3 linked regions of the Homo sapiens genome follow. The protein of the gene in region 1 interacts with the protein of each later gene in a pairwise test. Each region holds a gene or a part of one and is shown in the gene's direction. Other genes may lie near its edges. The genes, in order: CNTLN, C18orf54 and RFK.

Region 1 (10,099 bases):
TTAGTCAATTTATGTGTATAACTTGGGTCAGTCACAACATTTTATAATCTTAAATAACTTATAAAATATTAGAAATGTGAAGGAAGAAGTGTTGTGCAATTTCGGGGCATGAATCCTAAAATGTGTCTCTGAAAATGTGGGATAAAATGTGTAAACTGAACATTTCAGTGTTAAGGTTTCATATAGAGAAGATAAAATCATTGAGCTATTCCTTGATCTTATCTATCACATAGACTTTAATTCTTACTTCTGTGATTCTTCATATATTTAAGTCCTCATGATTCTGATATAACTTTGTTTTTCACCAAGATAAAATAGAGTGCTAGGTCCAGTATTGTCTAATCTGACTTCTAAAAGACATAAATAGTTTTAAGTTGATTTATACATAAATCATAATTTATAATTTTTACATAAACAGTTTTTAGTTGATTTATATTTTACTTATTTTACTTACTACAAATGGTCTAATAATTTTTGGTAATAATAGATCCATATGAGTGTCTGTAAGTTCTTTGCATTATGGTTTTCCATGGTATAAGTTTTTACCCCACATACAAATCTCTCTCTTGCTTTGGAGGAATGTGTGAGTCAGAAAGAGAACTAAAGCAATTAGTGTGAAGTGATTGTCCATAATCTAACATAGAGTCTTGGAACACTGACCAAACTGTATAGGGACAAAAAGGATAAGTTTTTACTTTTGTCTTGTTTCATGTTTTCACATAGAAATTTCCTAGAAGACCAAGTACCTTTAAGTACATAATATTGTCTACTACTAAAAATTTTTGTTTTGATGCTGGTTTGTAGAGATTCCGTAACAAAATACCACAGACTGGTTATCTTAAATAGCAAACGTATATATTATTCTCACAGTTCTGAAGGCTGGAAGTCTAAGATCAAGGTGTCAACAGTTTTCATTTCTTTTGAGGCCTCTCTCCTTGGTTTGTAGATGGCTGTCTTCTGCCTGTGTCTTTACATGGTCTTCCTTCTATGTGTCTGTGTCCTAATTTCCCTTTTTATAAAGGCACCACTCAGACTGAATTAGATTCCACCCTAATAACCTCATTTTACCTGAATTATCTGTTTAAAGGCCTTATCTCCAAATACAGTCACATTCTAAAGTACTGAGGGTTCGGTGAGAACTTCTACATACTAATTTGTTTAGGGGAAACAGAATTTAGCACATAACAGATATCAAACTGCTAATATAGTGATTTTCTAATAAGTAGCTTATTTTCTACTTAATGTTTTTAGACTTAATTGAGAAAATTGGCTAGATTCGAATATACTAAAAGTTTATATACATCTTTTCTATACTATCCAGTTAATATTAGACTTTTCTGTGTAATTTTACATATACTTTTCTGATGTCTCTGGTTCATTTACAGTTGAGAAAACTGAGACACAGAAAGAATAAGTTACTTGTCCGAGATCACACAAGTACTGTACATAGAGCCGAGATGAGAACTCAAACCATCTGGCTCCATAGTCCATGCTCCTAATTACTATACTATGCAAATTTTAAAAAAATATTCAATAAACTTAGTATAGGAAAGCTGTAACAGGGATGACTTTTTACCATTGTGACATTTTTGATGTGTGTGTTTCACATCATACATCAAAGGATGTATTACAAGGAAATTACCAGATTTTAAGTTATGTTACAGATATATATTGTATAGTAGGGAATGGAAAAGGGACAAAGGAGCTGGGTTTCGATCACTTTTTGGCCATTAACTTCTCGTCAACCTGGTCAAGGAAATTACTTAACTTCTCTAGAGGTCTAAAGCAGGGATACCTTTCTACCCATCTGATAAAAATTTTTGAGGATCAAATGAAATAGCTGTTAGATTTAGAGATCTTGGCCAAAGTGTATCTCAACCTGGCATTGTTTTATTTATTATAAATTGCTTTTCTCTCAATTCTCCAAGTCAGAGTTAACAGCATTTTCAGCCACATAATACAGCCTTAAGTCTAAAAACAGAAAAGAATCAACTAGTTATCTTAATATCTACTTAACTCATTGCATTGAAGATACTGTCAGGCTTTATTTACTGCCTGTATCTTTTATTTTAAATACAATTCTAAGTTTATTTTACTTCTCAGCAGAAAACACCTTCAGTGCAGCACACTAGAAGTATGCGTATTAAGGGGTAGGATGATTGTTTTTAGGCAGGAATAATGACACAGAAGCAAAAAATTACAAACAAAAGATTGACAGAGAAAAAAAGGCAATATGAAAATGTTAAGGTAAATACAAAATTAGAAAAGCACAGTCTGGGACCATTTAGAGGAGCGATAAGTAGACGTTTATATCACAGTAGTCCCTAAAGCCATCACTATATTATAGTATAGTGATAATATAATACATATTAGTATATCATATATAATTTATAGTGATAATATTTATGATATGATATCACTATATTAACATATCACTATTAGCTTAGCATAATCATGGGTGTCCGTATTTCTAACTGAATGAACAATCATCAGAGAAAGAATTGAAAATTAATGATTGAAGCAAACGCTTCAATTATTTGATAAATTGACTAGTGTGACTAGTGTGGAACATGTTATTCAGGCAGTGCTGGAAATAAGACACAATACATCACTGTAAACGTGCAAAATATGGTAGAAATTTTGATTACATTACACACACATTTGATCAAAACATAACATTCAAAAGAGTTACCATGTTGAGGTAGCTTTGGGTTTTTAAGAAAAATTAATGTTTCATGTAAAAATTAAAATTATTTCAAATGTTTTATTTGTATGTTATACCCATGAGATATTTAAAGTCAGTCTGATGAATTACATTTACCTTGGGTAATTAATAGTTTAATCTTTTCAAATTCAAATTATTTTTAGCATGAGTCAAACATCCAAACCTAGGAATAGTTCTAATAGAAAAAATTTATTGTAGTTTAGAAATATTAGCTAAATAACTACTCCAAATATTTTAAAAGCTATTATATTTTATTATATTTATATTCATTTAATACCTTTAAAACTTAACAAATGGATTAATGTGAGTATGTCAACACTATCTTGAGTGTGGAAAAACTAAATACCAAAAAGACTAAGTGATGTCTTAGATTACACATTTAGTTGGAACTAGAGTCAAAATTGAAAGGTGTTCTAACACTCTAGTTACCACCTCTGGTTCCTAGGCTCTACTGACAACAAATACCACAGAACAAACATGTTTTGCTTTGAAAAACTAATAATTATTTACAAATAATGTAATAAGTAGCATTATTAATAACTTCAAGTAAAGAAGGATTGAGTATTCATGAGGTTTTCTATCAGTTACCATTATTCTCTAACAAACTATCCCGAAACATCGTGGCTTAAAACAACAGTTTATTATTTCTTAAGATTTTGTGGGTTGACTGGGAAGTTCTTTTGCTGGTCTCTTCTGGGCTACCTCATATCCCTGGATTTTTTCAAACCAAAGATTTCCCTAGTTGGAAGATACAAAATAGCCTCACTCATAGATCGGACAATTGGTCTACTACCTGTCAGCTGGAGTACCTTGGTACACTTCCACATGATACATCAACTGTATTCCTAGCAAGGTGATCCTGGAGCAGCATTCCAAGAAGGGAAAGAGAGAAGCCACAAAGCTTTAAGGCCTGGGAACTGAAATTTACACAATTCATTTCTGCTGCATTCTTTTCGACAAAGCAAGTCACAAGCCAGACTACGTTCAGTGGGTTAGGAAATGGATTCCCCTGCTTGATGAGCAGCAAAGCATTTGTGACCATATTTCGTCTAAGATGTTAGTAAATCCAGTATTTGTTTTAAGTGATCTTCTTAAATCATTAAAATTCTTAATTATTCACATATTTACATTATACCAGGACAACTCATATTTCCTGTAAATGTATTTTGGATACATACTCTTTGCAATTCTTAAATGATTGTGTTCCTCTATAGTTTGGCATGTTATATAAAAGTTTTAGTATTATTATTTCTATTACAGCATATAAAATAAAGCATTTAAAATATTAAAATATTCATTTTAATTATTGTTTACCATAATTATTGTAGAGGTATTCTTCTTTAGAATGGCACTTATTTTTATGCTGCCTTAGACCAAGGTTGTAAGGTATATTTAAATTTATTTCTATTTTTAATCTAGAATGCTACTAATGAACTCACTAAACAGTCATCAAATGTGAAGACTTTGAAATTTGAACTCCTAGCAAAAGAAGAACACATAAAGGAAATGCATGAAAAGTATGGTTTTTGTATTTCTATCCATTGTATTTGGTGCCACCTAGTGGCAACCAGCTCTATTAAACGTGCTCCAAGAAACTGCTAATGTTTACGTTTTCCTTCCCTAGTTCATATTTAAACCTACCTAAGATGAAAGTTTAAGGAATACTATGTATAGCATGATTAATGGCAAGCTATTTACTTTTTTAAATTAGATAATGATGAAGTTAAATTTCCGTTATTAAACATATTTAATTTTGAATAAATACAAATTAATGGCTTCGAGACAATGAATGAAAAACTTTACAACGTGGTGGTTATTTGGCCCCCCAAATATATGATTAGTATTTGTATTGGATTTAATGCCTAAGCTTATAAAGCTAAGGTAAAAAAAGGAAAGTTTTGTTTGTGTTTAAAATAACTGGAGGTTATGGAAGTTTGTACTCTTGTGTTTATCAGTACAAAGATTTTAAATGCTCTATCCCACTGAATCAAAATTATTTTCTTTCTGTATCTTTCAAAGCTACACTATTGCTTAGAAATAGTAAGATGTTTAGATAGAATTCCAGTTGTCACTGATACATTTGAGATATATGTATCTCACAAACACACCTGTAGACCTCATTATAAGTGAAGAGCACTTAAAAGTGATATGAATAGATAAAAGCATTAGACAAAAAGCTTGGTTAATTTTTTAACTGATAATATTTTGAAGTTTATTTATCAATTAAGAGTAAGTCTTGCTTATTGTTTAACAGGGCTCTAGATTAACACTCTTTGAATCCTGGCTTCCCTACCTACTAGGCCTATGCCTAAATTTAATAATATTAAATTAGGTTCTTACGAGGAATAAATGAGTTAATACATGTAAAGCACTTATAACAGTGACTGGAACATTGTAAGCCTTCGATACATGTTAGCTATTGTCATTCTTGTTTTAGTAGTAGCAGCAGCAGCAGCAGCAGTAGCAGTGGTTCTCACAGCATCTACCATTTTATACTTAATAGTTCATCAACTTATGCTAAACAGCTGTGTGGATTGAATCTCAAATTATATTAAATTAGAAGATATTATGGCTAATTTAGTTTCATTACAAGAGTTTGCATTTGTTTATTGAAGTATAAGATTTTTTTCTTATCATTTTTATGCTTTTGATTATCTTCATATATCACTTTGATTTTTCACAGCAATGTAAAAATGTAATTTAAATGAAATAGTTCTAAGTTTTCATAAGTGTTATTAATTTTTCTCATTTCTTATATATTTTGTTTTAATACATATATGTAATTATATAATTACCAAGTCACAACTATAGATTTTACAAGTGTTCAAAATATTAAAAGAACAATATCTTATGCAGTGCAATTCATTTTACTGATTTACAGTGTCAATATCACGTAGCATTTAAAAAGTAACAGTAGGTATAATATTGGATAAAATGTAAGATATCACCACTGTTAAGGTATTTTCTGTCACTCTTGATGTCACCTTTTTTTTTTTCAAGGATATCTCGAATGGAGAGGGATATAACTATGAAAAGACATTTGATAGAGGACTTGAAATTTCGACAGAAAGTAAATTTGGAAAGTAACAAGAGTTTTAGTGAAATGTTACAAAATCTTGATAAAAAGGTATCAATTTTTATCTTTACTGACACTAAAAATATCACTTCCTGTTGTAATTACTCTCTTACCACAAACATTTAATCCTAATAAATGTATAGAAAATATTGATAGGATATGTATTTACTGTTACAAAGTAACACTCTTTGCTCTGAAAGTACATTATTTATTTTAAAATTCAATTCTCTAAAACCTCATACATAATATGGCCACACATTCTGTTTCTATTTATAAATATCCCATGAGAAGATTAAAAATCCTCAATATTTCTAGGATACATAATTACATTTTATTCAGTATTTTATTTAAAACTGTAATTTATGATAGAATCAAGCTTATATTTCTTAGTGAAAACTTGATTACCTATAACTATCAGAAGTTCTTTAAAAATGTACTTTCTTCTTGGATACCCTTAATGAATTTTACATGGGAATGGAGTTGTACATGCAAAGGGAGTTGTAGTTAAAGTAGTTACGTAATATATGACCCAAAGTAGAAGGGTTTTTTTTGTTTTTTTTTTTTTGAAGGTGCTTTTTTCACAACTCATAAAGCACCCTGTGCTTTGGCATTCACTAAATGTTATCCACACCTGAGAGAACATCTCCTTTACTTTCCTTGTTGAAAATGAAAATTTAAGTATCTCTTAGGTCAAATTGATTTAAGAAAGAAACTTTTACATGAGCATGACAAATCCATATGGATTTTCTTTCTCTTCTCTTCCACACATCTGTGCAAGTTAAAATCACTTCCTATAGGCTTTTTCAATGTTATCCTTTCAATTTTGCTATTTTTTAACTTCAATAATAATTTCATACATAGCCTTGGAATCTTTATATAAATAACATATATCTTTAGTGGCATTAAACTGAAAAACTATTTTTTCTGTTATGCTTTGAGTTACATACACATATTATAATCTTATAAATAAGCTATATATATATATAAAATATCCTATTGTTTTATTTCATCCAAAAAAAGGTATGTAATAGTTATTTTAGAGAATACAATGGAAAGTTACCTTTAACTTGGCTTGTTTCAGAGTCAAAACAATCATCTCCTGCCTTAGGAAGTTTAGATTAGTAATTAATGGATATGTAGTGAACATTAATATTGTGTTATTGGGTGCAAGAATAAACATACCAGTATTCATTTAGTTTGTGTGCAATTTTAGTTTTTGTTACTGATTTAAGGATTGTTACTTTCATTCATAATATGAGTTCTGTAAGTATAATACTTGAATTTGATAGCGTTATGAGAAAATAAATGGAAGTAGACTCATTCACTCATTTAGTTTCTGTTGGAACAAACACAGTATATTACTAGAATGCCTTCAACAATAATAATTACCTTTATGCTTTTAATGTAGGTAAAGACATTAACTGAAGAATGTTCCAACAAGAAGGTATCAATTGATTCACTAAAGCAAAGACTTAACGTTGCTGTAAAAGAAAAGTCACAGTATGAACAGATGTATCAGAAATCTAAAGAGGAGTTAGAAAAAAAGGTATGCTTTTAAAAAGGGCATTTTAGATTACAGATGGAATATAATCGTGTTTGTTTCATTTTTAACATTGTTGCTTTTTCCTTCCCAAAACCACAAGCTACTTAAACACTTCAGATAAGTGCAAAGAGGATTTGTATCTCTACATGAAACGCCAAACATTGGTTTAACATTAAAGATATTTCTGTATTAGAGAAAACAGGTTGTGTTTGTCTTGATAGTTTTTAAGAAATGAAAACTATTATTGAACACTGGTATTTATACAAGTAGATCTAAATTTTGTAGGCCCACTTAAACTTTCAAACTAAATGTTTCCATGTTATGTGGAGGATCTTTTGGTCTAAAATAGCTTCCATGCTTTTAATTATTTGTAATCTTTAAAAATCATAAACTAATTTAGATGATAAGTATATGAGAATATGTACTTAGGATGTTTTATTGAAAGTTAATGAAAATAATCATTAATTTTACCCAAATAATAAATACATAGAGAGAATAATAAAATATTTTCCTTATTTGACATGTATAACTAACTCTTCCAAATCTGTTTATAAAATATCTTTTATTTTATGACTGCTGATCTTTTGCAGGATCTCAAGCTTACTCTCCTAGTATCAAGAATAAGTGAGACTGAATCTGCAATGGCAGAAATTGAAACAGCAGCATCTAAGCAGCTTCAAGAATTAGCATTGCAAAGTGAACAGGTCCTAGAAGGTGCACAGAAGACATTGCTGTTAGCCAATGAAAAAGTAGAAGAGTTCACCACATTTGTGAAGGTTTGAATTACTTGTCGTTTACTAACTTGTACTTTACTTTAGGCAGATAGGCAGTAGCCTACTTGAGATGATTTGGGGAATAAAGTTTCTTTCTGCTTTCCTAACACAGAAAGCATCTTCTTCTACCCTATTTATCACATTGCTAATAATTCCTCCATAAAGAATTTATTTTTATAGTTTGAATTTAAAATTTTCTACCATCTTATTAATATTTCTTTCTTAATGTCAATTTAGTTATGAAATTGTAGTAGTCAAGTCATCTGGACAGGTTTTAAGTTGAAAGAATTAAGCTGTTCCCACCCTACTCTCCTTTTGAAAATCGTTCAAGCAGGAACAACCAGAAACTTGCTCAGTGTTCAGTGATGCTAAGAGACATCTGAATCCCAGGCCACAAACTATCAAGACATGGAATAGACAGAGGAATGGCACATGACAAACAGAACAAAGAGAAGACAAACTCAAGTATCTGCAGAGGTGTACCATCTAGAAATTATCTAAAAGCTGAAGAGCCCTAGAAAGCCTTCATTCCCCTAGACATAGAAGTTAATAACATTTTATGCCACTATTGAGTACTCCACGAAGAGGAAATTCCTTACTTTGCTTCTTTGGAAATCATAGATACCTTGGGAGTTTTCTCATTTTAAAAATATCTGCAAAATGAATTGATAAAACATTTTATCTCCTTTATCTCTTTTAATGAATATTTCAACTGGTGTGAAGTCAAGCCAATAATGCCTGCCTCTGAGGATCCTAAATGATTGCAAAGTATTAATTTTAGTAAATGTAATTTACCTTTTCCAGATTCAAAACACTATTTTTTGTAAATGCTTGTTGAATAGTTTCACTGTTTAACTTATAGTGAACACTTTCATTAAATATTGTGACTTATACCCTGCTGGTGGGAATGTAAATTAGTTCAGCCACTGTGGAAAGCAGTTTGGAAATTCTCAAAAAGTGAAAAACAGAACTACCATTTGACCCAGCAATCCCATTATTGGGTACATAACCAAAATAATATAAATCCTTCTACCATAAAGACACATGCATGCGTATGTTCATTGCGGCACTGTTAACAATAGCAAAGATATGGAAGCAACCTAAATGCCCATAAACAATAGACTGGATTAAGAAATTGTAGTACATACACACCATAGGATACTACACAGCCATAGAAAAGAATGAGATCAAGTCCTTTGCAGCAACTTGAATGGAGCTGGAGGCCATTATCCTAAGTGAACTAACACACAAAGGAAAAACCAACACCACATGTTCTCACTTATAAGTGGAACCTAAACATTGAGTACACATGGACACAAAGAAGGCAACAATAGACATCGGGGCCTACTTGAGGGTGAGGGTGGGAGGAGGATGAGAACTGAAAAACTACCTATTGGGTACTATGTTTATTACCTGGGTGATGAAATAGTATGTACATGAAACCCCTGCAACACAAAATTTATCTACAGAACCAACCTGCACATGTATCCCTGAAACTAAAATTAAAGTTATATATATATATAGTCATTATTTTACTCATGATGTAGAACCATTTTTATTATGAGTATTACCTTCATAAATCTTGGTTTTTGTTTTATATTCAACTTAGCATTTTGTTTGTGGAGCTTTTGGCTAAGATATAAAATATGAAATATATAATTATGAGATTTATTCAAAATGCTAATCATTGTTTTTCCTTGAAACATTCTTTGAATGTGGCACTTTAAAAAAGAAGGATGAATGAGAATCAGAAGTTTTCAAAATAGAAAAATTAATTTCATGACTGTATATCTGATTATCATATACTTGAAGTTTCATGACTTCCATGATAAGGTAATGGGTATATTTCTCCATACAAAGTAGTTCAGCAAAAATTATCTTTAAGAAACTTTTTCTTTATATCCAATGATATAAATAGTATTTAATGATGAAGTGGGTATCTAAACTCTAATTATTCAAGGGTAATGTTAGTCCTTCATATT
Region 2 (10,862 bases), on another chromosome or scaffold:
TCCAGTTTTTAGGAGGAATGCTTTCAACTTTTCCCTGTTCAGCATAATGTTGGCTGTGGGTTTGTTATAGATGGCTTTTACTTCTTTGAGGTAAGTTCCTTCTATGCCTATTTTGTTGAGGGTTTTAGTCAAAAAGAGATGCTGGATTTTGTCCAGTGCTTTTTCTGCATCTATTGAGATGATCAAAATTTTTGTTTTTAATTTTGGTTATGTGATCTATCACATTTATTGACTTGGGTATGTTAAACCATCCCCACATCCTGGGTATGAAATGCATTTGATCATGGTATATATTATCTTTTTGATATACTGTTGGATTAGGTTAGCTAGTATTTTGTTGAGGATTTTTGCATTTGTGTTAATCAGGGATATTGGTCCGTTTTTTTTTTTTTTTTTTTTTTAATGTCCTTTACTGGTTTTGTTATTAGGGTGATACTGGCCTCATAGAATGGAGGATTCCTTCTTTCTCTATCTTTTGGAATAGTTTCAGTAAGATCATACCAATTTTCTTTGAATGTCTGATAAAATTCAGCTGTGAATCCATCTCGTTCTGGACTTTTTTGTTGGCAATTTAAAAAATTATTGTTTCAATCTTGCTACTTGTTTTTGTTTTTTTTTTTCAGATTTTCTATTTCTTCCTGATTTAATCTAGGAGGGTTGTATTTTTTCCCAGAATTTATCGATCTCCTCTAGATTTTCTAGCTTGTGCATGTAAACGTGTTCACAGTAGCCCTGAATGATCTTTTTGTATTTCTGTGGTATTGGCTGTAATATCTCCCATTTCATTGCTAATTGAGTTTATTTGGATCTTCTCTCCTTTTCTTGGTTAATCTTACTAATGGTCTGCCATTTTTTTCTTTTCAAAGAACTAGCCTGTGGTCCCAGCTACTTGAGAATCTTGCCAACAACAATGTGAGTGAGTTTGGAGCATAGCCTCCTTCAGTTGAGTCTTCAGATGAGACCTAAGCCCTGTTGACACCTTGATTACAGCCTTGTGGATTCCTTGAGGCAGAGGCACCTAGCAAAGCTGTTCCTGGATTCCTAATCCAGAGAAGCCATAAGATAATAAATGTTTAAGTAGCTAAGTTATGGGATAATTTGTTGTGCACCAATAAATACCTAGTATACAGTGCATATAAATTTCACTCAAACTGTGAGTGCAAAAAGTACCAATTGTTTAGTTTTGCATGTAAGAGTAAAATATCTCTGATGAAAATTTCCAGTAAAGCTTTAGAACAGCTTAACAGAACCTATTCTTTGGCTCTAGGCATTTGTATAGCACTCTCTAAATAAATACTCAATAATTACTTGTAGACTAAATAAATAACTTCCAAGCTTTTAAAAAATGCCAAGGTTGCTGTCTACACTGGTCTGATCTGTAAGATACCAAAAAGCCAAATTATCCAAAAGTTAATTCCCCTAGTGTACCTAGGCTTGACCATACCCACTCCTCCCTGTTTATTTTTGAAAGTGCCTGTATTAGAACCATTATTTCAATAAGGTAGGGATTATTTTCCTGATCATTGTTAAAGTGAGTGGGAGAAAGCATATCAGCTTTGTCCAATGGTAAAAAATTGGGCTGAAATATAATATAGGTAAATTTTATTGAAATTTTAAAAAAGCAAGAAACATAAAATGAGGTAGTTGAAAGAAGGAGTGGACTCCAAAAGAAAAGGAATTGAATAAAATTTGATGATCTGATGGCCCTGATGTACTATCATGAGCAATAAATGAACTCTGAAAGATTAAGCTAAAAAAAGTCAATATACTTTCCCTTAGTGTACTTGTATTTGAAATAATTTTATCCTTAAAAGTATATTTAAAAGAAGCATACAGAAAAAAATGCATATTTAAAATGAGGAAGTAGGCTGGGCACAGTGGCTCACACCTGTAATCCCAGCACTTTGGGAAGCCAAGACAGGCAGATCGCTTGGGCTCAGGAGTTTGAGACTGGCCTGGGCAACCCCATCTCTACAAAAACATATAAAAATTAGTCAGGTGTGGTGGTGTGCACCTGTAGTCCCAGTTATTCAGGAGGCCGAGGCGGAAGGACTGCTTGAGCCCAGAAGGCACAGGTTGCAGTGAGCTGAGATTGTGCCACTGCACTCCAGCCTGGTGACAGAGCAAGACCCTGTCTCAAGAAAATAAAATAAAATGAAGAAATACACTTTACTTGTTAGTGGTTCATTTAATGGACACATGAAGGGTTTAAAATTCCATAAAATATTACTGTTAGCAAGAAAATACCAATCTGCTTTTATAGTAATTATTTCTTGAAGTGAAAATTTCCTATTTAGTGAATTAGTAATTAGAAGAGATTTTTTATCTGATTGTCATCAGATTTGAAAATAGAAGATTAGATGGTATCTGATTGCTGTATTTTATTATTATCACATTTCTGCCTAGTGACTTAATAATTTCTATTTATTACTATAAAATAATTTATTATAGCTAATGAAGCAGCACTGAAATTCCAGATACATCAATGGCATTGAATTTAAAACAGTAATTGTAAATAGAAGATTGTACTCACAGATTTCCATGGAATTTTCTAGAAGCCTTACTGGAAACAGTTATCTTTTTCTCAAAGGGGAATAAAAATCCACAAATAATTAGCTGTCAAATGCAGGAAAAATGAAAATGAAAAACTAACAAAAGTAAAAACACTTTTTTTTCTGGTTTGTAAAAGAAAAAAATATATATATATATTTTTCAGAGACAGGGTCTCACTATGTTGCCCAGTCTGTAGTGTACTGGCTATTCACAGGCACAATCATGGTGCATGACAGCCTCAAACTCCTGTGCTCAAGCAGTCCTCCTGTGTTAGCCTCCTGAGTAGCTGGGACTATAGGTGCACACCACTGCACCTGGAACAGAAAATATTTTTTTAAAAAAGTCTTTACAATGAATTGTTTCTTACTTAAAAACAAAGTCTTGAAACATAATTTAACTTATTTTCTTACTGAAGTTTTAACCACTTTCCAGCCTGATGTATCTCGATTATAACCTAAAACTTCTTGGGCAGTTTGTTGGGCAATTGCCTTGAAGTCCATCTATCTGCAAGTTTTAAAAACAAACAACTGGTAAGAATATAACCATATAAAAACTTAAAAAGTGCTATCTTACATTTTAATATTATTTCTATAATGCCTGTCACATAGAAATGAACATAATTACTTGATGAATGCATGTATGCATGAACCCCTCTCTCCTTACAGTCTTTCAAATGAGAAACTGTGGTATAGTGGAAAAATCTAGACTTTGAAATCAGAAACCTGGGTCATATCTTGTCTCTGCCACCTATTGTGTGAAGCATGTTACTTAATATTTCTGTTTTTCCATTTCTCTCAAGGTAAAATTAGGATAATATATGTCTTGTAGAATTAGCGTGAGGATTAGATGAGATGATATGCTTAAGGTTCTATCCAGTGCCTGGCATGCGATAGTCATTCAATAAATAATTTTAATTTCTAACAGTTTAATCACACGTCCTTTGTCTTGTGAAGCATTATGAGCTGTTGGTTATGTGTTCTTGAGGATTATTTAAAGTGCGTAGCAGTGGCACTACACGATCTGACCCCTGGCTTCCTCTTCAAATATACCTCCTACCAGTCTTCTTCTTGTCCACTTAGCTCCAATCATTTGATCTCCTGGCTGTTCCTCACATACAATAAAGCAATTTCTGACTTCAGGTTCTTTGTACTTGCTGTTCCTTCTGCTTGTCACTGTCTTCTGCAATGTGTTCATATAACTGACTGTTTCATAGGTATCTTTGCTTAAATGTCACCTCCTCAGATAGGATCAAGTTTAAATCAACTCAATTTAAACACATTGAACCCTGCTTGAAGTTAGAAACTGCAATGGACTGAATGTTTATGTCTCCCTAAAATTCATATGTTGAAATCCTAACTCCCAGGGTGATATTAGGAGATGATTAGGTCATGAGGGCAAAGCCCTTATGAATGGGATTAGTGCCCTCACAAAAGAGACCCCAGGGAGCTCAATGGCCCCTTCTTCCATGTGAGGACACTGCCAGAAGTTAGCAGTCTGCAACCAGAAGAGGGCCCTCACCAGAACCTAACCATGCTGGCACCCAGATCTCAGACTTCCAGGATCCAGAACTCTGAGAAATAAATTTATTGTTTACAAGTCATTCAGTCTTTGGTAATTTCTTATGGCAGCCCAAAAGGACTGAGACAGGCACTGTGGTAGATGTAGCAACAACAGTTGAGTAAGATACTAGACATAACTATTACTGCTGTGAATGAGTTCCGGAAGCTGCAGTCTCACTGGTCCTTCGGGTCATCATCCAGCTTTCAGTTAGGGGAAGCTGGCAGGTAAGGTGAAAACAGAACTGGATTCAAATCCTGACTTTGTCACTTAGTACAGCTATATTATTTTGGATAAATTGCTTAACCTTTGAACTTCAACTTCCATATCTATAGAATGGGGATAATAATATCTATCTCACCGAATCATTATAAGGATTAGTTGAGTTAATATATGTAAAAATGCTTTAAACAGTGTGGAGCCCTATACTAGGTTATCAAAATAGTTAGTTTCTCTTTAAAAAAATGGACACATATAAATCCATCATTTAAAAAACTCTCCAAAGATCTGCTTCCTTAAGCACTTAAATAAACCTTCTTAAAGTTTAATTATTGGAACATTTCTTCCTTAGCTCTCACTTAAAACTCTTCAGGTTGGATCATAAATCTATTTTCTCTTATTTAATTCTCCAGCAAGGCACAACAGGTAGTTGATAGTCTCTATATTTGAAAAGTTTTAGTAAACCATTATTATAACCTCCTCTTTCCTAGCAGAGTCCTGGTTTCTTTACCTTTCCTGACAGATCTAATGCAGAATTTTAGTAACTACTGGGGCTCCTCTCCAAATCCTTGTGGAAATCTCCATATCTCTTAACCTGTGAGGAAACAAGGCAGAAGTAGAATTATTTTGATCCATGAATTAGGTCAATATATTTGATAATTTTCTTTATATCTTCTCAGTGTCCTTTATCTATACTTTGTCTTCATTAGGAAACATTTGCTACATATATGCCCCAAGATGAAAGAAAAATATAGTACAAAAAACTTTAAAAGATACTGTTTATAAAAAGAATCTTTAAGAAACTATTTTAAAGGAACTCAGTTTAAAAAGACACTTAGGTGGAACGTGGATACAAAAATTTAAGTTTTTAAGCTTACGTCACTAACAATTAACAAGGATTGTTAATCCCCGACCAGGGCTCGTCTTAGCATATAAAACACCGTTCTTGATTTCCTATTGGAAACCTACTTGATATTAATTGATCTAGAGACTTTGAAGATTATTGGGACATACCACTAGCAGGGTATGTCTTATTTTCAAATCACCAACTATTACTGCCACAATAGACCTGTGTTTAACCACTAAACTGAACGTTATAGCTTCCGGACTTTTTCATTTGCTAAGAGAAAAGGGAAGGTAAAATTTAGTAGGCTACAAAGGGTAAAAAGAAGAAAGTGCAAACAGTAAGACTACAATTGTATTACATGGTGGTGGAACGTCGGATGAGCTGGAACATATTCAGATGGACTCATGGTCAAGGATATCTTCACTCATAGGGTCAGTGGAAAATAAACATAAACCAACATTGGGATGGCCTCTTTTTTTGATACACCAATTGGTTGAAACTGGATTCCTTCCAGACTTACAGACAGGTTCACACATGTTAGTGAGTCTTTACATCTGTTTGTACAATGACCCTCTTTCTGAGCTGCCTGACTGGGTCCCCAATCCGTGCGGGGTCACTGCCATTCTTCCCTGGGAATCAAGGCTTCCTAGGAGTTTGTTAAATCCCATCCCTGGCTAAACTCGGGTCTCCAATCTCCCATCTGCTTTGTGTGTGAGAGGCTCCGGGGTGTGAGAGGAAAGGCACTGAAGAGGGAGTGAAAGAAGTGGTGAGGGGGGACTGCCTACTAGCTGAGACGATATCTTATTTTTGGCGGGGGATGCTCTGGAAGCGGGGAGGCTGAACTCACTTGGAAAAACTGGAGCTGTGGGGCAGACTCTCAGCGACCGGAACGACAGCCGCCAGCGCCCTTAAGTCTCCCTCCCCACCCAGTCCCCTCCCGCAGACCCCGGGGCCGGCTGAAGGGAGATCAGCAAGTCCCCGCGCAAACTGGCCGAGAATAGCTGTGACGGAGGTTGGAAGGGCGTGGGGGGCAGCGACTTGGATGCAGCCCACATCCCCCCATTCCCAGCCCCAGAAAGGAGGGAGAAACAGCACCTTCCAGCAGGGGTCGCGACCTAACGCTCAACAGCATCCTCTCTTCTCCGGCCGCTCCCTCATCTCCGCTCGCGCCCGGCGCCCCACTGCCGCGCATGCGCACCGCAGGCCGGCGCCATGTTGGGGCGGTTTGAAAGCGAGCGCGGGTGTCGAGCTCTGCTGTGACTGCGGAGGAAGCTGCGAGTGAGCCGAGCCTGAGGCGGGGCGGTGTCCGGGTTGGGGATGCTTTGTGGTGTCTCGCGTTGGGTAACAGGCCTGAGCTTTCGGCGGAGAGCTGTGGAAGTGTGCGGTTTTTGTTTTTGTTTTCCTTTATTTTTATTTTGGGGCCTTAGGGGTGAGTTAGGACGGAAAGGAGGGTGTCTTTTCGAGGGTTGTCCCATCCTGTGACAGCCGAGAAAAGGCGAAAGGAGAGTGGCGAGGAAAGAGGAGGAGACGTCTCCTGAGGGAGGGCGCTTGTGGAGTCTCTGTGGAAGGAAGAACACTGTAGGGGGAGTGCCCCCTGGGCGAGGGAGGGTCGCGGGACGCGGCGGAGGGGGCTCACACGGGCGTCTGCGGACCTGAGGCGGCGACAGGAAGGGGCTTGCGCTCTGGGGCTGTCGCTTCGGAACACTTCTCCTTCAGTCCATTGCTGCGCTCGCCCTGGCTGCTGAATAAATGGTTTCGGAGTGAAAAGCATCTCACTGAAGAACTTGTCTGTGTCTGTGACTGACGGGCGGTGGAACACCAAAGGGAGGGTGTCGCCTGATTGGGACTGGAAAAATTGGAATTCAGGGCGCCCGGGGTAGGGGAACGATGCGCACTGCTGGAGACGGGCGACCTTCGCTGGCCGGTCGGTGGGTTCCTGGTTTTCTGCTGCCGAGTAAACAAACGTTCCCTTTCCTAACTTAGCAGTCACAGAGCTATTTCCAAGAGTTGTTCTTAATTTCCTGTGCGATATTCCCATTGGCTATTTAACACTGAACATTCTGTTTTTGAATCAAAGTTAGTTAAAATTTGTTGTCAATAAGTTTAACATTCTGTTCTTCCGCGTGATGGATTTTCTTTTGGAGATTCGAACTGAAGCCTGTACGGAGGAAATGGTAAGATATATGGGATTTGCATGAGATATGTGGGGTTCAAAATAATCCTGTGGCTGAAGTGGGGAGAAGTGGGTGGGTCCCTACCCACTTTAGCTACAATTGGGGTCTGTTCAGCGATTGTTGGAAGCAGGATGATGAGTACATAGGGGTTTATTGAACGATTCTACTTTTGTATACTCTTTTGGGGAAAAGTTGGAAAACTTTTCATAATGAAACTTAAATTGTGCATTTTCTTTTTGTCTGTCCTGTGAGTTGAAATAACTAGTAAATGTTATCACCCACTTACGGAGACCAATACAACAGCTTTCTCTTTCAAGGTTTTGTAAAATAAAATCAGTAGCCTGTTCGGCATTCAAAGACAGAAAACATTTGGTCAGGCTTATCCAAACAAATTTACTTGAGTGAGTTTAAACTTCTTTAAATAAAAGGGATACGAAAAAGGTAAAGCTGGCTTAGTTTAGCCATTCGTCAGAGATATACCAGTATTACAGAATTCAGATAAATCAATGAGACGAAACAACTGTTACCTTATGTTCTGCCATTTGCACTGACCACGGTCAGATCTCTTGTAATGGCCATTGCATGCTCTAACGCTGTGGTAGGATGATGTTTTACTTTGTCTCTTATTTAATTAGAAAACTTTCGATGTTTTAAAGCCAAATTTAATAGTTACTAAGATTACATTAAAAGTTGTTATAACAAATATTTCTAAAATTATAGCCAAAAATTAAACATTATAACATCATAGCATATGTTAAGTCCTCAACATTAATACTTTTTTAGTATAGGAAATCCATTCATTTAATTTTAAAAAGAATGTCATCATGGACTGAATTAGTGCCGGTTCGTTCTGTGATTTCTTAGGTTTTCAAATATACATCCTGTTACTGTACTGAGGTAGACAGGGATTCTCTCAATTTTAATAATGGAAAAACAGAAGAACACATTGAGTTGATTTTCACATTATTTAAGCTTCCTTTGAAAGAGGTGAGCTGAATCCATTTAACATAAGAATTGAAAATAGGGAGGGTGGTACCAAAAACGAAGGTCAGGAAATGATTAACTATTTTAGGAAAAGTGTATATTGCTAACTCATTCCAGAATAAGACCTGCAGTTTATTTACAGTTAAATGTTGTAAATGTACTAGCATTTATAACATTGAAAGTGAATATTCTCCATTGTTCTTGTTTTGAATACTTCATTTGATGGCTTTAAAAAATTTATTGAGCGCTATTATCTGCAGCACATGGTAGTAGGCTTATGATTTGAAAAATATGATGTATAGGGGAATATTAGGTATTGTGATGTCATAGAATATATCACCATAAGAGAAAAGAGGTTCATAAGTAGTTTTTAGGACTTTTTAAGAAGTGAGTACTCTCTCCTTGGTATTTTCCATGTATATTCTCAGATAATTTTTGTATACATACTTCCAGCCACATAGTAGGTACTCAAAAAATGTTTTCTAAATCATTGATGAAGGAATTCACAATAATAAATATAACAAAAATCTACAATTCCTAACAAGGAGTGTCTGTTATAGATAATGGATTTTATTATTTAAAGAAAATTACAAAAGGTTTACATATTTAGTAATTTTGTTTGTGTATGGTCACTTTTAATTGGCATCTTAACATTTCGTTTTTGTATTACAGTTGTTTTTAAGGGAAATGAATAGAAACAATCCACTTTGAAGAAGCCATGGCGAAATCAAAGACAAAACATAGACTTTGTTCTCAGGAATCTTCAGTATCTGCCCTGCTGGCAAGCTGCACCCTGAGTGGTAGTAATTCCTCTAATTCTGATGGCTCGTTTCACTATAAAGATAAGCTGTACAGATCTGCTTCTCAAGCTCTACAGGCTTATATTGATGATTTTGATCTAGGCCAAATATATCCTGGTGCAAGCACTGGAAAAATTAACATTGATGAGGATTTTACTAATATGTCACAGTTCTGCAACTATATTTACAAACCAAACAATGGTATGCTTTTATTCTTTGTTTTCTTTGTGTTCAGATGTTTTGAAGCATTTGGGAGATGTACTGTAGTATTGTAAAGTTTGACATTATTTTTGTTACTTTGGAGTAAAAATAACATAATATTGAGATCTGGGTGTTTTTGTAAAATGATTATATAATTCTCTGTGGAACAGTAATATTCACAAGATGTTAAGAGTTTGTCCATAATAAAGCTTCCTTGAAGACAAGTTTGGAAAATGCAGTTGTTGATAAGTCAATTACTACTTTACTTAACACTTGCAGAATGACCCTAGAATAGAAAAAGTTTGTATTCAGTTCTTGGAGGGATGTGGTCAATATATTCCGGAAGCAAAGAATGAGAACAGCTGTTCTCTATGTATAATCCATGCCATTGAAGGGTTTGTAGGTGAGAAAACAAGTTATTTTTCCACCTAGTTTAATAGCATATTTTTTTCTATGCTGCAACCAATATTGAGTGACCAATGTTACTGTGATTGTATTAGTGTATCAGATATGTCTAGATGATGAAAGTTGAAGGAACAGTAAATTAGAGAACACAGGAAAATTCAGGAGGTTGGAGAGAAACGTAGAAATTAACACAGAACGAAGAATCGTGAGAAAAAAAGCACATCCTGTTTTATCCACCTACACCTTTTTATGCTTTTAATCAAAGCTTTAGTGAGGATAAGGGGAAAGCAGCAAAATGCCTCTTAAATTCTTAATTCTCATTTACTGTTGGATATTATAAAATATTTGTATGTAATAAACAAAACTGTTCTTCGTTTTTCAGCTTTTGAAAACCTTGATCACAAAAAGCACTCAAACTTCATATCCTGTAGAAGACACACCGTTAATGACATAGACTCCATGAGCCTAACAACTGATGATCTATTAAGACTCCCAGCAGATGGATCATTTTCTTATACTTATGTTGGACCGAGTCACCGAACGAGCAAGAAAAACAAGAAATGCCGTGGAAGACTGGGTTCATTGGACATTGAGAAGAATCCACATTTTCAAGGACCCTACACTTCCATGGGCAAGGATAACTTTGTTACTCCTGTTATACGCTCAAATATAAATGGAAAGCAATGTGGTAGGCTGAAAAACCCAAAACTTATGAATAGGACTAATAATTGCATTTCTGAATCATCTTTGTCTTTTCCCAAGAAATCGTCTTTCAAGGACAGTTCAGAACACAGTCTTGAAAAGAATTACCCAAGATGGCTCACTAGCCAGAAATCTGACCTTAATGTTTCAGGGATAACTAGTATACCTGATTTCAAATACCCAGTCTGGCTGCACAATCAAGACTTGCTACCTGATGCAAATAGTCAAAGGGTTTATCAGATATTTAAAGATGATCAGTGTTCCCCTAGACATAGTCATCAGGCACAAGGAACTTCTCGGCTTATCAATAAATTAGATTGTTTTGAATATGCTTTTGAACCCTCAAACTTTTCAAATTCCTTGAGTGATGATAAAGAATTAGTTAATGAATACAAATGTGATTTTGAACATAGCCAGTGT
Region 3 (9,500 bases), about 59 Mb from region 1:
CTACTCTGGTACTTGTTTTTTGCATCCTACTCAAAGAGTATGGATTTTTTTGGAGAGCTTTATATACTTACCTGGTACTTTATTCATAACCTATTCACATGAATAGGAGAGGGAAATCTGAGCCGGAAAATGGAAGGATGGGATTGATACTTACAGGCAAAGTTGTAGGAGTCTTGTGAATGTAATGATTTACATTAGCCTTGCATGTGATTTTTACAAATGTTTGTTTCTTATTATTATTTTGAGACAGAATCTGGCTCTGCCACTCAGGCTGGAGTGCAGTGGTAGTGCGATCATAGCTTACTGCAGCCTCCATCTGCTGGGCTCAACTGACCCTCCTGCCTCAGCCTCTCTGGTAGCTTAGACTATAGGTGCAGGCCACCATCCCCAGCTAATTTTTTAATAGAGGTAAGATCTCACTATGTTACCCGGGCCGGTCTCAAACCCCAGAGCTCAACATGAGCCTCCTGCCTTGGCCTCTCAAAGTCCTAGAATTACAGACATGAGCCACTGCACTCGGCTACAGGCATTTAATACGAAATTTGTAAGACTCAAAATATTTTCTTCTGTTGTTTAGCTAATTTTCCTGAGCAAGTGGTAGATAATCTTCCAGCTGATATATCCACTGGTATTTACTATGGTTGGGCCAGTGTTGGAAGTGGAGATGTCCATAAGATGGTGGTGAGCATAGGATGGAACCCATATTACAAGAATACGAAGAAGTCTATGGTAAGCATTATATTTTGCTCTGTAACCGAAAATGGTATGATGACTTAGAATAATATATTACAGTATTCGTTACAGAAATAGCTTATCAGTGGTAATCACAACGTAGTTCAAATACTGGAATTTTGGGCAATCTCTGTCTTTTAATTGGAGAGTTTAATTCATTTACATTTAAAGTAATTTCTGATAAGGAGGGACATCTACTGTTTTGCTATTTGTTTTTTATATGCCTTATAACTTTTATGTCCCTCATTTCCTCTATTACTGCCTTTTGTGGTAGTGTGCTTTTTGTTTTGTTTTGTTTTGTAGTGACATTTTAATTCCTTTCTCATTGCTTTCTGTGTATTTCTATAGATACTGTCTTTGTGGTTACCATGGGGTTTATATTTAACATCCTGAAATTCTAAAAGTTTAATTTGAGTTTATACCAACTTAATTTCAATAGCATACAGAACTCAGAAATTGCATCTTTTTTTTTTTTTTTAAAGATGGGGTCTCACTATGTTGCCCAGACTGAAGTGCAGTAGCTGTTCACAGGCCAGGTTGTAGCACACTGTAGCTTCAAACTCATGGGCTCAAGTAATCCTCCTCCAGCCTCCAGAGAGCTGGGACTATAGGTACATGCCACTGCCTGCATCTGGCTCAGATTACATCCTTATACATTGTGGTACCCAATAACAAAGATTAATAATTGGTTTTTTTATGCATTTATTTTTTAAATTATGTAGAAAATAAAGAGTGGAGTTACAAACCAAAATTATAATACTGACTTTGATAATTGCTGTCTGTGAAAGACTCACTTGACCAAAGATAAAAATGATTTAAAAGCCTGTTTCATAAAATTGAGCTTGCCACAATTAATGCACTTCATTCACCATTTACTTCATGCATCAATTGCGCTTGGTCACCCTCTTAAGATAAAACAGTTTACTACATGGATGGTGGATGGAGGATGGTGCTTATTGATACAGTCCCACATTGGTGCTTTTCTCTTTCCTTTTTAAACCACCTGAGGGTATACTTTTCTGCCCTACTCTTTACAGGACCCCACAACTTCAGTGTTTTATCTGTTAGATTTGGCTGAATCTTTTGTCAGCTCAAATGTGTGGCAAAAACAAATTACAGTGAAGCTAAATTTTGTTCTGTGTGGAGTTAATAGAAGTGAAGTGTGTCACTGCTGGAAAACTACAGAGCTAAATGCTGGCGTAAGCAATAGTAATGACGCAGAAGTACTTAACATTTTGCTCAGTATTTCAGTTATTTTTCAGTATTAATGATTTGAAAATTATTTTTTGGAGACAAGGAAAACAATCGAAAGATCACAAAATACCATTCTGTTGAATGAGGAAGGAAAAGAAGGGGAGGGGACAATAGCCCATAACTAATTTGTCTTTAGCTACTTAGATAACAAAAATGTTATTATACAGCCAGTTAAGGAATGCCTTTTGAGTGTTAGGAAAAATTGAATTTGAAACATAGGCATATCTTACCAGTGGAAAATTGAACTTTTGCTTGCCTTTGCCAGTAACACACATCTGTGAAGTGCCTGTGCCAGACCTTTGTCCTTTAAAAAAAAAAAAAGCGTTATCTTACTGACCTTAAATAAGTTCTTAGTAACACATCTAGATCCACTTCCTTTGTTGGAACTGTGTATTGTTGTATTACAAATTTCTTTCATTGTGTGTGTGTGTGTGGTTTTTTTTTTTTTTTTCTCAATGGTGTGTTGAAGAACAGAGTTTTGTTTTGTTTTGTATTTTCAGATAGGGTCTTGCTCTGTCACCCAGGCTGCAGTGCAGTGGTGCAATCTCAGCTCACTGCAGCCTCAACTTTCTGGGCTGAAGTGATCCTCCCATCACAGCCTCCCGAGTAGCTAGGACCACAGGCATGTGCCACCATGCTTGGCTATTTTTAAATTTTTTTATAGAGATGAGATTTCAGCATGTTACACAGACTGGTCTCAAACTTTTGGGCTCAAGCAGTCCTCCTGCCTCAGCCTCCCAAAGTGCCAGGATTACAGGCATGAGCATGGCACCCAGCCCAGAGGTTCTTAATTTTAATACAATCCAGTTCAATATTTTTTTTATAGTTAGTGCTTTATATAATCTGTTTCAGAAATCTTTGACTACTCCAAAGTCATGAAGATACTTGTCTGTGGTTTTTTTCTAAAAGTTTAATTGACTGACATATCTTCAAATTGACTTTTTTAGTATGGTATCTGATAGGGATTTAAATTAATATTTTTTTCCATATGGATGTAGAATTGACCCAGCCTATTCATTGAAAATACCATGCTTTCACAACAGTGCTGTAGTGTCACCTGGGACATAAATCAAGTGACCTTATATGTGTGTGAGTCCAAAAATTCACATACATACTTGGTTTGCTTGTCTTATCATAGGTCTTGATACCTAGTTGTATAAGCCCTCTAGTTTTGTTCTCAAGATTTTCATGAATAATTTTGGTTTTTCCATATAAATTTTAGAATCACTTGTCAGTTTCTCCTATTTTAAAAAACCTGCTAGGATTTTGATTGGGGCAGCATTGAATTCGTAGATTACTTTGGGAAGTTTGCCATTTCTCTCAATAATGTCTTGTAATTGTCAGTGTCAGGGTCTTACATATTTTTTAAAATTATTTTTAAATTTTTTTTTGAGATGGAGTCTTCGCTCTGTCGCCAAGGCTAGAGTGCTGGAGTGCAGTGGTGTGATCTTGGCTCACTGCAACCTCCGCCTCCTGGGTTTGAGCAATTCTCCTGCCTCAGCCTCCTGAGTAGCTGGGACTATAGGCATGCGCCACCATGCCCAGCTAATTTTTGTGTTTTTAGTAGAGTACCGGGTTCCACCATGTTGGCCAAGCTGGTCTTGAACTCTTGACCTCAAGTGATCCTCCTGGCTCCGCCTCCCAAAGTGCTGGGATTACAGGCATGAACTACTGCACCCAACCAGTCTTACATATCTTAGTTTCTTTTTTATTATTCAAATGTTTACTGAAAAGAAAGAATATATTGGTTCATAGCCCCAAAGTCATGGGGCACTTTATGTATCTTCTAACTCAAGCCGCCCCCCACCCATTACAGACGAGAAAACTGAGCCCCGCGGAAGCTAGTTATACAGTTAACCAAGTGTGGGAACCCAGACTTTTGACTCTAAGTCAGTGCTCTTAACCTCTTAACCACAGTACTGCCCAGATGATTTAGCTGAACTAGATTCTGAGGCACTTTCTACGTCATGCGGCATTTTGCTTTAATGTGCTGTGTACCCTTTTGCCACTTTACTCCCTGATCAGGAAGCTGCATTGGCTCTCCTGCCCCTTCAGTCCTCAGCTCTGCCAAACTCTGAAGTTTCCATACATGTTGTGTGTCAGACGTGTGCAAATGCTGACTGACCTTAACAACTAGTTGTTTAGTAGTAACATCTTTTAATACTTTGCTCATTCCCTCTTTGGTGTCCTGTTTTCTCACCTTGATAAGATACTTACTTCCTTGGATACGTGTCAGTTTTTTTGTTATTGTTTGTTTGTTTGTTTTTAAGTAACAGCAAATCATGCCAGACACTGTCACCTCACTCAGTTAGGTTTATAAGATCCAAACAGGAGTGCTGGGAAAATTTAGGAAAAACTGCACTTAGATTTTAACCTGAATCTTTAAAAGTTTAAGGAGTGTTGATTGTTTCATTTAAATTAACTCACCATAAACATGAAGATGTATTTCAGATTTCAGTACACTGTAGTCTGATAGCACTCTTTGTAACATTTCTTGACTATAGGAAACACATATCATGCATACCTTCAAAGAGGACTTCTATGGGGAAATCCTCAATGTGGCCATTGTTGGCTACCTGAGACCAGAAAAGAACTTTGATTCTTTAGGTAAGTTCTTATTTTGATCTTCTTAAATACTACTACTGCTACCACAGGTAACTCTACCACTACTACCAGTAATAATGATGGCAGGACAGATAATATTTGAGCATTTAATATATGCCAGGCACCGTTTTAAGTGCTTTACGTGAATCTATCTTCTTTCACCTGTGAGGGATTATTTTGCCTATTTCTCAGATGAGGAAATGGCACAGAGAGATTAAGTAACATTCTCAAAGTCACATAGTAAATAACGGAGTCTAGCTTTGAACCTAGCAGGCTGGCTGCTTCTCTCCAGCGGTATGAAGTTAATGAAATCTTTCAAAATGTGTGAAGTTTGAGATATAGTAAATCAGAGAACATTTGAAACATGTTACCAGGTATGTATTAGTGTAGTGTGATAGTTTTAACTCTGTTATAAAGTTTCTTTTACAAGTGTAAATACCAACCAAAAATAATAGTGAATGCTTTTTTCCTCCATTTGATATTTGCAGTGTACATTTATGCCTATGCCTTTCTCTTAAAATATAAGATTAGGGACATACCTTTGTTTGTTTGTTTGTTTGAGACAGAGTTTTGCTCTTTGTTACCCAGGCTGGAGTGCAGTGACGCCCCCTCTCACCGCAACCTCCACCTCCCAGGTTCAAGCGATTCTCCTGCCTCAGCTTCCTGAGTAGCTGGGATTACAGGCACCCACCATCACACCCCGCTAATTTTTGTAGTTTTAGTAGAGTCAGGTTTCACCATGCTGGCCAGGCTGGTCTCGAACTCCGGACTTCAGGTGATCTGCCCGCCTCAGCTTCCCAAAGTGCTGGGATTACAGGCATGAGCCACTGCCCCCGGCCTAGGGACATATCTTTTGTGTACCATTGACTTAGGCCTGGAAGGAGTGATGGAACAAACATTTATTGGGTATCTACCCTGTGCAGAGATACTGCCAGCCTGTGAGTTTTTAGGATTGGCTAAACAGAGTAGTAGTAAAAAGTATGTTAATGGTTTTTCATCATTTTTACCTGGTATATTCTCTCTGCAGAGTCACTTATTTCAGCAATTCAAGGTGATATTGAAGAAGCTAAGAAACGACTAGAGTTACCAGAACATTTGAAAATCAAAGAAGACAATTTCTTCCAGGTTTCTAAAAGCAAAATAATGAATGGCCACTGATGAAAAATTGTATTATTTATTCATTCACTGTTTTCTAGTGTTTCTGTGTTTATTACTGTTCAGCATCATCTTGGTTATATACTGAAAATCAAACACTTTACTACAGTTGTGAATTAGTTTAAACCGTACAATGTTGTTATCATATCATGCTTCAACTATTAAATTAAGCCCATCATATCATAGCACTAAAAAGATTGAGTTAAAAATAAGATTTAAAAAATATATATTGATTAAAATGTACCACTAGAAAGGTATTACATGTGTATAAGTATGGGTAAAAAGGCAAGTCACTAGTTTGAGATGAAAACTAAAATTTTCATGGTAAAATGCCAGCATGTATGTACTTGTGTAGTGTGTACTTCTAAACAGAGAAGGCTTATAAAAGTAAATGCATTAAGGCCAAGTGCAGTGGCTCACACCGGTAATCCCAGCACTTTGGGAGGCCGAGGTGGGAGGATTGCTTGAGCTCATGAGTTCAAGACCAGCCTGGGCAACATAGCGAGACTCCATCTCTATAAATAAAAAAAAAGGAAATGCATTAAATAGAAGGTTGATAGTTTATCATAAACCTGCGGGGAAGAAACTCAGACTTTCTATTTTTGATATTTTGTGCATTAATACATTACAAACATGAAGATGTTTGTAAAGTTTTGTTTTAGTCATTTTCTTTGCAGTCACATCATTGTACCACCTTCATTATTGTATAGAGCTGCTTCAATTCTGAGTCCTCTGGACTTCCCCTGCCTATCTGTTTGTTGTTGTTGTTGAAGACAGTAAAATAAGTGTTTTCAAATCTATATGTCTCCTTTTTGTTGGATAATGTTTCTTCTTTTTAATGGTAAATATTCTTGTTCTTCAACATTTTTCTTTGGTTCTTTTTTCCTTTTTTAGGAAAAACAAAACAACAGACTTCATCCTTAGGTTTTCTCAAGATTTAAGTGAACACATTTACACATATCAATTTCTTAAAGAACACAAAATGTTTCCTCCCTAGCAAAACTATTTAAGAGCCAATTAAACTATGAAATAGTTATAAAATTATTTTTAATATTTAAGGCCTTGAAATTATATTCCAAGGCAAATCTAAATGGGTGTAGTTGTATATGCACGATGTAATTTAATGCTAAAGAGTACTTACAGCTTGAGGGAAAAGCATAAAGTTTTAGTTAAATAGCCTTCATACTGTGGATTTTTCCTCCTACTAACTAATATGTGGGAAATTAAGATTACAGATGCTTTGGGCCCCCTCAAACAGTACATTGCTACAGTTCACTGTAGCAACAGATTTGGTGGTGATGGGGGGATAGAGGTAGAAGCAGATAGAAGGTAATTTTAAAGTTAATTTATTATGAATCATTTTCCCCTAATCTGCATAAATGAATTAGAACTGATTTTAATAAAAATATTCTGTGTAAAAAGTACTCAGAAAAACATCTAAAGCTGTTGGAGAAGAGGGACTCATATAAATAGTTGGATTGCGTTTTGCTTTTTATTTCTTTATAAAAATATGTCAAAAACAGTTTTTAATTTTAGAAATCTTATACTTGAAAGAAACCTCAATTATCAGTGGCTTTATGAAGTAAAGTTAAAAACAAACATAGGAAATGTGAAAATATTTGTGTTTGTTTTGTCTGACTAACTTGCTGCTAAATGCTATCTTTAGGTGTGTGAAAGTTCTTTGATATGTTATTGTCCTTTTACATCTTGTTAAATAGCCATTGCTTTTGAGAATCAGATAGTGTGTTGTTTAGGGGTTAATTGTGTCTATATCTTTCAAAAACTTTTATATTATGTATTATAAGAAGTTACAGTAGTACCATTTTGATTAGTCTGAATGTTTTCAGGCCTTGAAATAAATTTTGACTAAGTGATATTTTTTCTTTCCCTGTGTCAGCTTGAATCTTACTTTATGTATTTCGAATTTGTTGGCTGATTGCTACTCTTAAGTGTGTGAAGTTGCCTGAAGAGCAAGATATAGGTGGCAGCTGTAGTTCTACAACAAAGGGCCTTGCCTTCAGGATCCCCTGTGTTTTATGCCTGCAACACAGTGACTGAGGTTTATTTGGAGAGCAATCACAGGGCATCACTACTAAAGTCCACTTCCTGAGAGTAAGGGTTCCTGTTACATTTTGGAGATAGAAGAGCCAGAAGAGTATAGATAGGTCTGGGTTCCCTTGCATAACTCCTGCCCCAAAACAGAGTTCTGTAACCTTCTTGTCTTTTGCCACCAACCCCATAAGCAGCAACTTAGAACTCGTTTGCCTTTCTCTGTTGCATGCTGGTACTCTTTGAACAGTCATCCCCAGAACTCTCATCTTCCTCAACTATGGAGGCTTACAGCCTGCAGTTAGAGCTTACCATGAAACATGATTCTGATTGGGAGATGGAAGTGGAAGTCTGGTCTTCAGAGATGGAGCCAAGAAACTAACCTATTCTGCCAAAAAAGATGCCAGAAACAAATTGTAAAATAAGCTCTACAGAGATGGCAGATCCAGGGTTATCAGATATAGAATTTGAAATGACTGTTTAATATGTGTAATGAAGTAAAAGAGTAACAAAAATGGTAAAATGGCAAGGTGTTGTATAAAAATTGGGCAGCTGGGTGCTGTGGCATGTGCCTATAATCCTAGCTATTTGGGAGGCTGAAGCAGGAGGATTACTTGAGGCCAGAAATTCAAGGCTGTAGTGTGCTGTTATGGGTACTTGTAAGTAGCCACTGCACTCCAGCCTGGGCAACATAGTAAGATCCTGTCTCTATTAACATTTAAAGTAAAGTAAAAATTGGGCAGATAATTGAGAATTGTCCGAAATATATAGTTATAAAGAAAAATTGAAATTAAAAAGTCAATGGATGGGTTAAATACATATTAAACAACAAGAGAATTGGTGAACTATGAGACTTAAGTCTGTGACTGTGCTGTCAGCTCCAAATTCACCATTGATACTCTGATGTCGCTGTGACTCTACATTTCTTTGACAATTGGCTTCCTTTTAGGTCAGGTCATAAATGGAATTTGAACCCCAGGTTGTCATTTCTCAGGCAGCTCAGTAAGTCCCTGGACCTACCCTGTGCTTATTTTTTGTTCCCACGTGTATATTTGAGATAGACATACTTGACTATTGACAGAATTTCCACTTAGCTTCCCTGACCATTACAAGTGCCAAGTAGAAGCCAGGATAGTAAACCACAACAATGCTACATCTCCAGGAAAATTGGAGAGGTCATCATCAAAAATCCTGAAAGATTAGCTGGGTGTGGTGTGGTGGGCCTATGGTTCCAGCTATTCGGTAAACTGAGCTGGGAGAATAGCTTGAGCTCCTGAGTTCAAGACTGCAGTATGCTCTAATCATGCCCATGAATAGCCACTGCACTCCAGTTTGGACAACAAAGGGAGACCCTGTCTCAAAAAAAAAAAAAAAAAAAAAAAAAAAAAGCTGAAAGTTTGAGGATAGAGGCTGCTATTATATCTGTTTAGCCTGCACAGAAATTTGCTAAATCTTGGAGAATGACTATTATCAGCTAATCAAGTGATGATTTCAATTGCAGCTATTGTCTGCGATATGTAAAAGTATCAGCAAATGTCTAAGGACTGCTACAAAGAACATTCTGAACACAATGCAATGGAGAAAGAAATTAGGCATAAAAATACAAAAATGTCACAATGTAAAGCTATTTTGTAATGAATGATAATATGTGACAAACATTTGTAGAATGCAGCTAACACTTAAAAGATTTATAGTTTTAAATACTA

Evidence for each region.
Region 2: the proteins of CNTLN (region 1) and C18orf54 interact in binary tests that used the Homo sapiens proteins (3 or more experiments, as listed by UniProt).
Region 3: the proteins of CNTLN (region 1) and RFK interact in binary tests that used the Homo sapiens proteins (3 or more experiments, as listed by UniProt).

The regions. Positions count from the first base shown.
Region 1 is NC_000009.12:17,458,772-17,468,870, forward strand, and holds part of CNTLN (centlein), read left to right. Parts: intron 1-4,144; coding exon 4,145-4,242; intron 4,243-5,725; coding exon 5,726-5,852; intron 5,853-7,209; coding exon 7,210-7,347; intron 7,348-7,934; coding exon 7,935-8,120; intron 8,121-8,451; coding exon of another isoform or gene 8,452-8,553; exon of another isoform or gene 8,554-10,099. UniProt on the Homo sapiens protein: Required for centrosome cohesion and recruitment of CEP68 to centrosomes.
Region 2 is NC_000018.10:54,351,521-54,362,382, forward strand, and holds the start of C18orf54 (lung adenoma susceptibility protein 2), read left to right. Parts: upstream 1-6,385; 5' UTR 6,386-6,555; exon of another isoform or gene 6,556-7,253; 5' UTR 7,254-7,350; intron 7,351-7,365; exon of another isoform or gene 7,366-8,721; intron 8,722-9,006; 5' UTR 9,007-9,052; coding exon 9,053-9,335; intron 9,336-10,122; coding exon 10,123-10,862. Other genes in the region: STARD6 (stAR-related lipid transfer protein 6), read right to left, coding at 2,534-2,616, 2,964-3,053. UniProt on the Homo sapiens protein: Might play a role in cell proliferation.
Region 3 is NC_000009.12:76,383,647-76,393,146, reverse strand, and holds the end of RFK (riboflavin kinase), read left to right. Parts: intron 1-577; coding exon 578-729; intron 730-4,490; coding exon 4,491-4,593; intron 4,594-5,617; coding exon 5,618-5,748; 3' UTR 5,749-7,621; downstream 7,622-9,500. UniProt on the Homo sapiens protein: Catalyzes the phosphorylation of riboflavin (vitamin B2) to form flavin-mononucleotide (FMN), hence rate-limiting enzyme in the synthesis of FAD. Essential for TNF-induced reactive oxygen species (ROS) production.